2 separate regions of the Homo sapiens genome follow, and region 1 is linked to region 2. Evidence: fine-mapped expression QTL. A gene starts in region 2. The other region holds a variant in brackets. All regions are shown on one strand. Distances are between the middles of the regions.

What was found. PIP is the estimated chance that this variant, and not a neighbour inherited with it, causes the effect.
Region 1: its variant is the best candidate, but not a certain one, in a credible set for the expression of LMO1 in cerebral cortex (GTEx, PIP 0.74).

Annotation. Positions count from the first base shown.
Region 1 is chr11:8,387,912-8,392,293 of GRCh38, forward strand. STK33 (serine/threonine kinase 33) reads right to left here. Exons shown (of 16, transcript NM_001352389.2): 16 at 3,959-4,382. Among named protein-coding and RNA genes, the nearest start is that of LMO1, 130 kb to the left of the region's middle. The variant G/C (reference allele first, on the strand shown) is at 2,077.
Region 2 is chr11:8,262,033-8,266,414 of GRCh38, forward strand. It overlaps LMO1 (LIM domain only 1), which reads right to left and starts at 1,846. Exons shown (of 4, transcript NM_002315.3): 1 at 1,306-1,846. The coding sequence starts at 1,330. RefSeq lists an enhancer at 1-271 and a silencer at 968-1,057.

The sequences.
Region 1 (4,382 bases), 130 kb after region 2:
CTTCAGGATTTTGCCTACAGGGAGGTTTTGGTCCCCAAAGGGCAGGGAGACTTCTATGGCCCCTGTATCAATGCCCTGGTTATGGTGTGAAGATGCCACAGGATCTAGTTCGGAGAGGAACCAGCAGAAGCCTGGACGGAGACAGGGTCTGCACGGCGTCTCTAGTCCCATTCTCTGGGCCAGGACAGGACCTGATGCATGTTTGGAGGAGGAGGTCCAGGATCTGGCTAAGGTACCTGGGATGGCACTGGGCAACAGGGAAGGGGAGGTCCTGAGAGTGCCATGGTGACACTGCAAAAGTCCTATTAATCTTCCCAATGGGGCAGTGGTGGGAACCCCCACCACTCCTCTGAGGGCTGACCCAGATTATTCAGGGAAATATGGAGAACTGACCCAGCAAGCACAGAGTTGAGCTGATTATAGCAGGGACTGAAGAAGGCAGCCACAAGAAATGCAAGACAGCCGCAGATGCGGCCTCGCTTTGAAGAACAAAGGCAAAGAAAATTGGCTCACCAATGAGAATTAAGTGATAACAATGTACTGAACAGAAATCAAAATCGGTTCTCAGCCAGCTCACTCAGAAAAATGCAGGATCCTGAAGAGTACAACTGAACGATGTGAGACCTTTGAATAGTAAAAACTTTTACCTTAAAATGCTTTTGTAAAGTGATTTCAGTGCTTGTAGAGATGAAGCGAACACGAAGCCCAGGAGACGTCTTGTCTTCAGGTCTCCTGTGCTTCCTGGGCTCCACGGGGTCCCCTGGAAGCCCCTTCCCTGGTCTCTCATTGGCAGCAAGCAGCCAGTGTAGGGTGGCCTCCTCCCAGGTTCTGTTGGCTGTCACAGTGAAGTGTTGCATTCTTTAGGCTCCCAAACCTTGAGCCCAGACAATTTCAGATTTCAGGTTCGGTATCGGGCAACGCTCCAGGTATCCTGCCCTACCTGGGTCCCAACCTCAGGAACATCTCCCCACCAGCCCCTCCCCAACCCTTAGTGACCACCCAGGTGAATCTCTTTGTGTCAGGAAGAGCTCGTTTATCTTTTTTGCCCTTTACTGTACTTTGGTAGGAGACTGGCAGCCAGAGACAAAACTACCTTGGGTCAGGAACAATGCAGCACTGATAAGGAAAGGGTCTCCACCACTTGAGTTGCAGCCAAAGACAGGTGGTAAACTTAAATGCGGAAGCTGAGGATTTAACAGAGACTGTTCATAAAGGCACTGAGAGGGTTTGGGAAAACCCACAAAGGAAGACATAGTAGCCAGGGCAACAGGCTGGTCTTGGCCTGCAAGGGCAGGGGACACAGCTGTAAGAGGGCTGCCTGGCAGGAGCCACGCCCACCAAAGAAGGCAGCAAATGCCCAGCAGCCTGGCCCAGAGCAGGGAGGCACTCGGGAGTCAGCGTCTGGACCTGGCTCTCCCCTTCTCTCATCTCCCCTTGGTGCCTTCATTGACAGAATGCCAATGAATCCAGAAGCCCAGGGAGTGTGTTAATGCAGTACCTGAAGATCAGCCTCTCTGGGCAGAGACGGCAGAGCAGGCAGAGTGGTTCTGGAGGGGCAGATAGAAAATATCCAGCCCAGGGTCATTTCCCAGAGGCCACAGCTCCTTGGTCTCTAGCCAAGCACAGCCATTATAGGACGCAACTTCCCTGGCCAATTTCAAAGCTCTGCTTGCTGCTGGGAATGCATGTTTAAACAAAGCCTTTATTCTCTGTTCCAACAGCGCGGCTGGAATTTAAAAAGCTTCATTTTCAAGACTGGTTGCTTTTGATCTGTCTAACCTGGAACTTACATTTTGGAGTCAAATAGAATTATTTAAACAAAGCATTTCAGTGATAAGCACAAGATGTTTTGATTTTTTTTGGCTGGCCCCCACCCAACCCCCGCAGCACCACACAACATTCCTACTCAAAATGAAAGGACAACTTTGTGGCTGACTCTTAAAATCTCAGCTTCCATTTCCCTGGGTCTTCGTTTCCTCATCCTGTGCCTTTTTCTAGGTTTGCCTGTGTACGGGCCCTGGGAGGGGGCTAACTTTACCTCAGACTGGCCTGGAACAACCAAATATTCTATGAGCA[G/C]TGCTTCCCTCCTCTCGCTCCGGCTTCCGGCTTTGGCAGAACCATGTGTTGTCATCCTGTCTTCTTTATTAATTATAATTTATTTTCATTTTGCTCCACATATCCCCATTTTCCTTCCTTCTCTGATGTAAGGCCTTCTCTGATATCATCCTCTATTCTCCTCAAATGAATTTGTCCCCAGCTTGCCTGCATTCCTCTCTTTTTATCATATTTTGCCTGCCTTATCTGTCACTCAAGTTGGAATGCGGATCGCTACTTGAATTCCTTGAAAATAACACCTGCGCTGTGCTGTCCTAGACAGACTATGTCCCGCTGGATCACAGCAAAACCCAGCTCCCCATGCTATGGAGCACAGGAGGTGTCACAGTGTTTGTTATTGGTGCCTTCGAGTTGGCCTATCAGTCATTGAAAGTCAATCTGAAATGGAAGAGCGCCCTTTTTTCACAGCTGTGAAAGCAAATGGAGGAAGGAAGGCCATATATCCCCAGACCTTAAAGAGGCACATCTGTTGGAAACAAAGCTCAGACATGGCCTGGTCCAAGTGTGTTCTACACAACGAAGTAACAAAAATACCACTAAGTAACACAAAAATGATGTGGAAATTCTCTCTAGAAAGAGTGAGCTAAATTTCTATTAAAATGACTCCTACAAATCAAATGAACACCTCGATGGAGGGGCGTTAATAGAATGCATCATATGACAGGCAGGGTGGCTGGCCTTGCCTGGTGTGAGGTGGGAATAGGTGAAGACACACTAACGTGTTATAAAATGACTTCATCTTTTAGTTAGTGGTTAGTTCTGGACCTTTGCTCAAGCTTACTGAGCAGAATCGCTAATTTTTAGGGCCAAGAGAAGTGTGGATAGTACTCTATCTAACAATAGGATCTTCTAATCCCAAAAGAATATCACTGTGAAAGTAAGAGTATTTTTAATATACAGAATATTTCATTTTCAAGCCCAGGGAATAGGCAGAATCAAAGCCACCATCTTGGTTAGGCTTTTCTGCAAGGAGACAAGCAGCCACCGTGCACTAGGTCCCTGCTTCTCCCCGCCGGAGGTGACGGAACTGCAGTGCACACATCTGCCTTTGAGACTACTAGGGAAGGGAAGGCTCCACTTAGCTAATGAAGCCAGAGTTCTCATCAGGTGAACAGAACACGCCCTTTAAAGACTGGCTTACTAAACCCTGAGAGAAAGCTTAAAGCTCAGGATATGGTTTATGGGCTTATGATACGACTGGAACTAGACATCAAGAAGGGAGAAAGATCTTGAAGCAGCTATGTTAATGACAGTTTAAAATAAAATACAGACAATTTCCACTAGATATGCCTTGGCCAGCAGGTTCCCCCAAGGAAAGCACACTGAAGGTACTAAGAAAATACTGGCAGAACCACGTGGGGCAACACAGGCCAGTGCTATCTTTGACTCATTCGGAATCACAATAGTGTCTTCTAAACTAACTGCAAGAAGCACACGTACTATTTTTAGTTACCAAGTGGATTTAAATGCAACTAGTATATGCTCAGCTGGCCAGATGTGGGCCATTTTGGAGACCTGACAGTTCCATGGGGGGTTGGAATGGAACTAGGTTATGACTTTATGAAGGTAAAAGCAATTGCAAATTCTTTCTTTAGAATTTGCTTTGGAAGCAAAGGAAAGTAGCTATTCAACCAGTTTGACTTCAACTGGCAAAATTAGTTACCCAGGTGGAAAGGAGATGTCTATAAAGCTAAGAGAAATGAGGTATGGTCCCCTGTTTCTTGCTTCATGATCTTCCCCAAAGATGTGTGCCTACCATTGCAGCAGTAGAACAAACTTATAATTTGCATAAAGGCTTAGAGGACCTTATTATATTCACCTCTTGTTAACATAAAAATTAATGTGCTGAGTAACATCTGTTTTTTATTGATTTAATCAATACATTGGGAATTTAGCAGCAAGTTAATGGCAAGCAGTTACAAAATCTCCTATTTTTCTACATTTAAAATAAGCTGTCTTAAACAATCTATAGCAACCTAAAATCTCACGAACACATGTGAATGACTGAAGCACTTCTGCTGTAATACGTATGGCAAGTTTATTAGTAATTTTCTAACAAAGTCTTCTAGTGCAAAGTGCACATAATTATTTGGCACCTCCATTACTATATTTGGCCTCTTGTTTTCCCCTATAAATAGCTGTGCCTAAACATAAGAATTTGAAGTAAAAATGAGCAAGTGTGCCCACAGCCTTAAATTGAAGGTATCTGCCCCCCTAAAAAACCTTCGTGTACATCTTGAGTTGATTTCCACTGCAGCCCACTGCCA
Region 2 (4,382 bases):
TGGGGGCATCGGCACCTGGCAGCGGCAATGCGAACATCCTGTGTGACCCTGAGCAAGTCACTTAGCTTTGCATTTTCACCAACTGGCCACATCAATAACAACGCTGCCCCAGGGACAGAGGGCTCAGGCCCAGCAGAGACTCCTGAACGGAAGGGCAGAGGATGGCCACTACAGTCACTTTAAGAGGATTCCCGCTGACTCAAAGCAAACCTACCCTTTCGGTACCTCACCAATGGCAGAACGCCGGCGGCAGCGTGGGCACCAACAGTCACATACAAATGCCCCTGCAACACCAACACACAGGCCTCACCTACAGGGCAGGAGGTCCTGGGACAGCCAAGGTACTGCCTCTCTCCTTACCCTGGGGACTCATCTTAGGGCACCCACTTGGCTTTCCCCCCAAGGGGGCTGGGATCCCCAGCCTTCTAGGACACTTAACTGCAGGGCACTCCCTGCCAGTAAGGCTTTGGGGTCTATGGGACCACCTGCTAGTGGCTTCCAGCAGCCATGGGCTCCTCTGTTCCGACCTTTCCCGTGCCCTGCAGTTTTCTAGGGCGCACTGAGGCTCGACCACGGAAGGTCCGTGCCACTCTCGCAGGCCGCTCCCGCACAAGTGCTACCGGCCGGCGGCGGGACACTTTCTTCCTCTGGGCCAAACTCCCGCCTCCGCGCTCAGAGAGACAGGGAGCTAGCGGGCCGGCACAAGAGGCGGCTCTCTTTCTCACCGAGTCACGCTCATGCAGATGTCCCCCGGAGGGTCCAACCCGCCTTCCCCTCGCCTGCCGGGCACCCTGGCGCTCGCGCCGTCCTCCCGCGCTCCCGCTTGCCCCGAGCTCTGGAGCCCGATTCTCCCCGAAGCCGCTGATTTGCTCGGCGCTCAGCGCCTCTCGGGTTACGCGGCGGCTGGCGCGAGGGTGATGGCTGCGGTGAGAGCAGCAGCCTCAGACACGAAATGCTCAGAGCGAACCTCCGCGGCGCGGAGATCGCAAGGGAGCCCCAGCCTCCGCGCGGCCCCGCGGCGCAGCACACGGCCAGTGCACAGCTCCTCGGCTCGCGGCCGGGACCCGGGGGGCGTGCGGCCCCGGGCGCGTGCAGCCCGGGGCTCGACCTCCTCCCCCCGCAAGTTCCGCCCGGCTGTCCCCCGGTACTTCCCCCCGCCCCAGCCCCGGCCCCCAGCGCGCCGCCCGCCCCGCAATCCCCGCACAGCCCAGCAGGTGTGCGCCCGTGTCCCCGCGTGTGTGTGCCTGCGCGCCGCGGCAGGGGGCGAGGGGGTGAGGGGCGTCGAGACCCCGGCCCGCCACCTACCGTCCTCCTTGTCCAGCACCATCATCTCGGGCGCTCCGTGTCCAGCCGCAGCTAGGCTCGGCCGGGAGAAGGGCGCCGACTCGGGGCGCGCTTTGGAGGGGCGGCCGGTCTTCGGGCAGCTAGCGGGCTCTAATTACCCGCTTGTCCGGCTCTTAACCTAGATTGCACTCAGCTAGAATTACATTCAGGAGTGAAGCACTTCGCAGATACAAAAGCAGTCTCACCTACTTTTGTGCCTCAGAATTGGAAGGAACTACGAACTGCAATTTAGAGAGAGAGGGAGAGGGAGAGAGAAGGGGGAAAAGAGGATCAGAGCCGTTTCTTTGATTCTCACCTTCTAAATGGCTCAATTTGCCCAGTATAATCTGTCTTAATGTAATTGCATTTGATAGCTCATAACCCTGTCTCTGGCAACGACACAGCTTTCAGCCTCATAAAGTGTTTTCCCCTCGGATTTAATCTGAATCTCAATCTAAAATTATATTCAAAGAGATGGGGGAATCTCGTGGCCGTCTCCCGCTGCCTTTCTCCCTCAATGTATGAGGTTTGCACTCCTGCTACTGCATAAATGCACACATTTCCTGAGGCCTCCACCCTCCCGGGTTAATGGGGAGTGGAGACGCACGGCTGTCCGGCTCCGCAGCGCCACCTGGAGGCTTCTAGGTCCTAGCTCGGTGAGCGTCTTTGCTCCGATCCCAGGGTCGTGGTCTTCAATGATTGTCTGGAGGACGCATCCCATCTGTCACTCCCAGACCCTCAGCCTTGATTTTTGTCTCTTCTTCAGAGCAATATTTCTCTGATCACATCCTTTTCCTTCCTACCAGTTCTGCCCGGGGTTTCGTGTTGCTTCCCGGATTGTTTGGCAAAGTTAACCCTCTTCAGGGCACAAACGATCCTACCGAGTCTTACAGCACTACTCCTGACCCCAGCAGCACCCCCAAAAGCATCCTGACTCCATGGAGCGGGAGAGCTTATCTCAACTTCTCTCGAAGCAAGCACAGGCATGGCCTTGAAAGCTTTTCTCATTCTACAAATATTTACTGAGCATGTATTATGTGCCAAGCACAGTTCTAAGGCACTAGGGATACAGCACTGAACAAAACAAAGATTCCTGCTGCTATTATGGAGTTGACGATTCTTGCTCTGTAACTCATAAGGCAGGAAAAGAGACAGTGCCCATCTCTTCTCCTGGACCCTGCTTCTCCCCAGAATCCTGGGGCTGATGTTCTGGCTGCCTACCCTAGGAAGGCCACCTACCCACCTACTTTTTTTCTTTTCATTCCTTTTTCTTTCTTTCTGTTTTTTCTTTTTTAAGATGGAGTCTTGCTCTGTTGCCCAGGCTGGAGTGCAGTGGTGTGATCTCGGCTCACTGCAAGCTCCGGCTCCCAGGTTCCAGCGAATCTTCTGCCTCAGCCTTCCGAGTAGCTGGGATTACAGGCACACACCACCACGCCCAGCTAATTTTTGTATTTTTTAGTAGAGACGGGGTTTTACCATATTGGCCAGGCTGGTCTCGAACTCCTGACCTCGTGATCCACCCACCTCAGCCTCCCACAGTGATGGGATTACAGGCGTGAGCTGCTGCGCCTGGCCGGAAGGCCACCTACTTTTAAATCCCAAGTCTTTTTTCTTTGCCTAGACAGTACAGAGTTCCAAGGTGGGATAGAAATAATGATTTTTCTTCAGCCCAAGGAGGGCTCCAGACAGATGTGTTGGAGGCTTGGTCCTGGCAATCACTTCTGAGGACTAGACCCAGGGAAAGAGAAACGGGCTGAAGGGCCACCAGTTGGGATTCTATCTCATCTCTGCCAATTACCAACAGTGGACCTTAGCAAGTCTCTTTCTCTATCTGGGCCTCAGTTTCCTTGGCTGTGAGGTGGGAGACCTACTCTTCCTGTATCTATGGTTGCTGTGGGGGTCAGATGAGCTAATGCATGTTAATGTGCTTTGTAAACTGTGGCACTCCAGACAATGCAGGGGGATGGGGGGAGATTATCTGGTTTGAAGGAGACCTGGAGGCTAGGTCTTACCCTTTAAGCCCTGGGAGGCCCCAGTGCTTGACAGGGATGGGGAGCAGCGGGCTGCAGCCATATTCCTCTCTGCTAGGCAGGGAAGTCAGGCTTTGAGAAAACAGAAAAGCGCTGCTTCTAATGAGATGCCTCATCTGCAGCTCAGAGGGTTTCACTTTCCCCTTCATCTTGAATACTTAATCCTAATAGTCCTTGAGTATATTTGATGTTAAATATATCATTTTGCTCAGACTCACCAGCCTCAGGACTGCGAGCTTGATCTCTCCCCTGCCACTGCCGCCAGACCCATGCCCTCAGGGTCTGAGGGAGGCTTTGGCACCGCTGCCACCGGCATATTTGGTGCCAGCCCCTCACACCCACCAGAGCTGGGGGCTAGACAGTGTAGCAAGCACAGGGCCTGACAGGCTGGCAAGGGGCAACTTCTTGCCGTAGAAACCTCTGTGCTACTGGAGGCGTTCACTCCATCGGGGCTGCATGCAGCCTTACTACTGACCTCCAGGGGCAGATTCTCCTCACTTTCAGGGGCTGGCCCTGACCCACAAACCAGGACTGGGCTAGCTGTGGCCACTCTTCCACTCTCTTGTCCACGAGTTTGTCTGAATACCAGCTCACCTCAGCCTCCAAGGTACCTAATTGGCAGCCACATGACTGGCATCCCTTTGGGGAGTCAGGGCCCTGTGCCCCAAACCCAGGGACTGGAGCAGGCCTGGGGTGCTGAGCAATGGGCTGCAGAAGCAGGTAGGGCATGCCAGCAGGGGACTGGTGCTGTGTGTGCCCACAGGTGGCTCTTTCTGCACCCCCAGCTGTGAGCATGGTGCTCCCAAACTGATCTGGAGAGGAACCTTCACAGCAAGTCTTGGAGGGTTTGGGTGGCTTGAGCTTCCAGCCAGGAAGGGGCTTGCTGGGTTGACAGAGGCAGATAGAAACATCACTCACCCCATCTGATGGCCTCTCTCCACTCACTGGGCAAGCAAGTAACTCCCACCCCCATACTCGCCCCACCCCCATGCTCACCCCACCCAAGCTGCTTCTAGGTCCAGGGACACG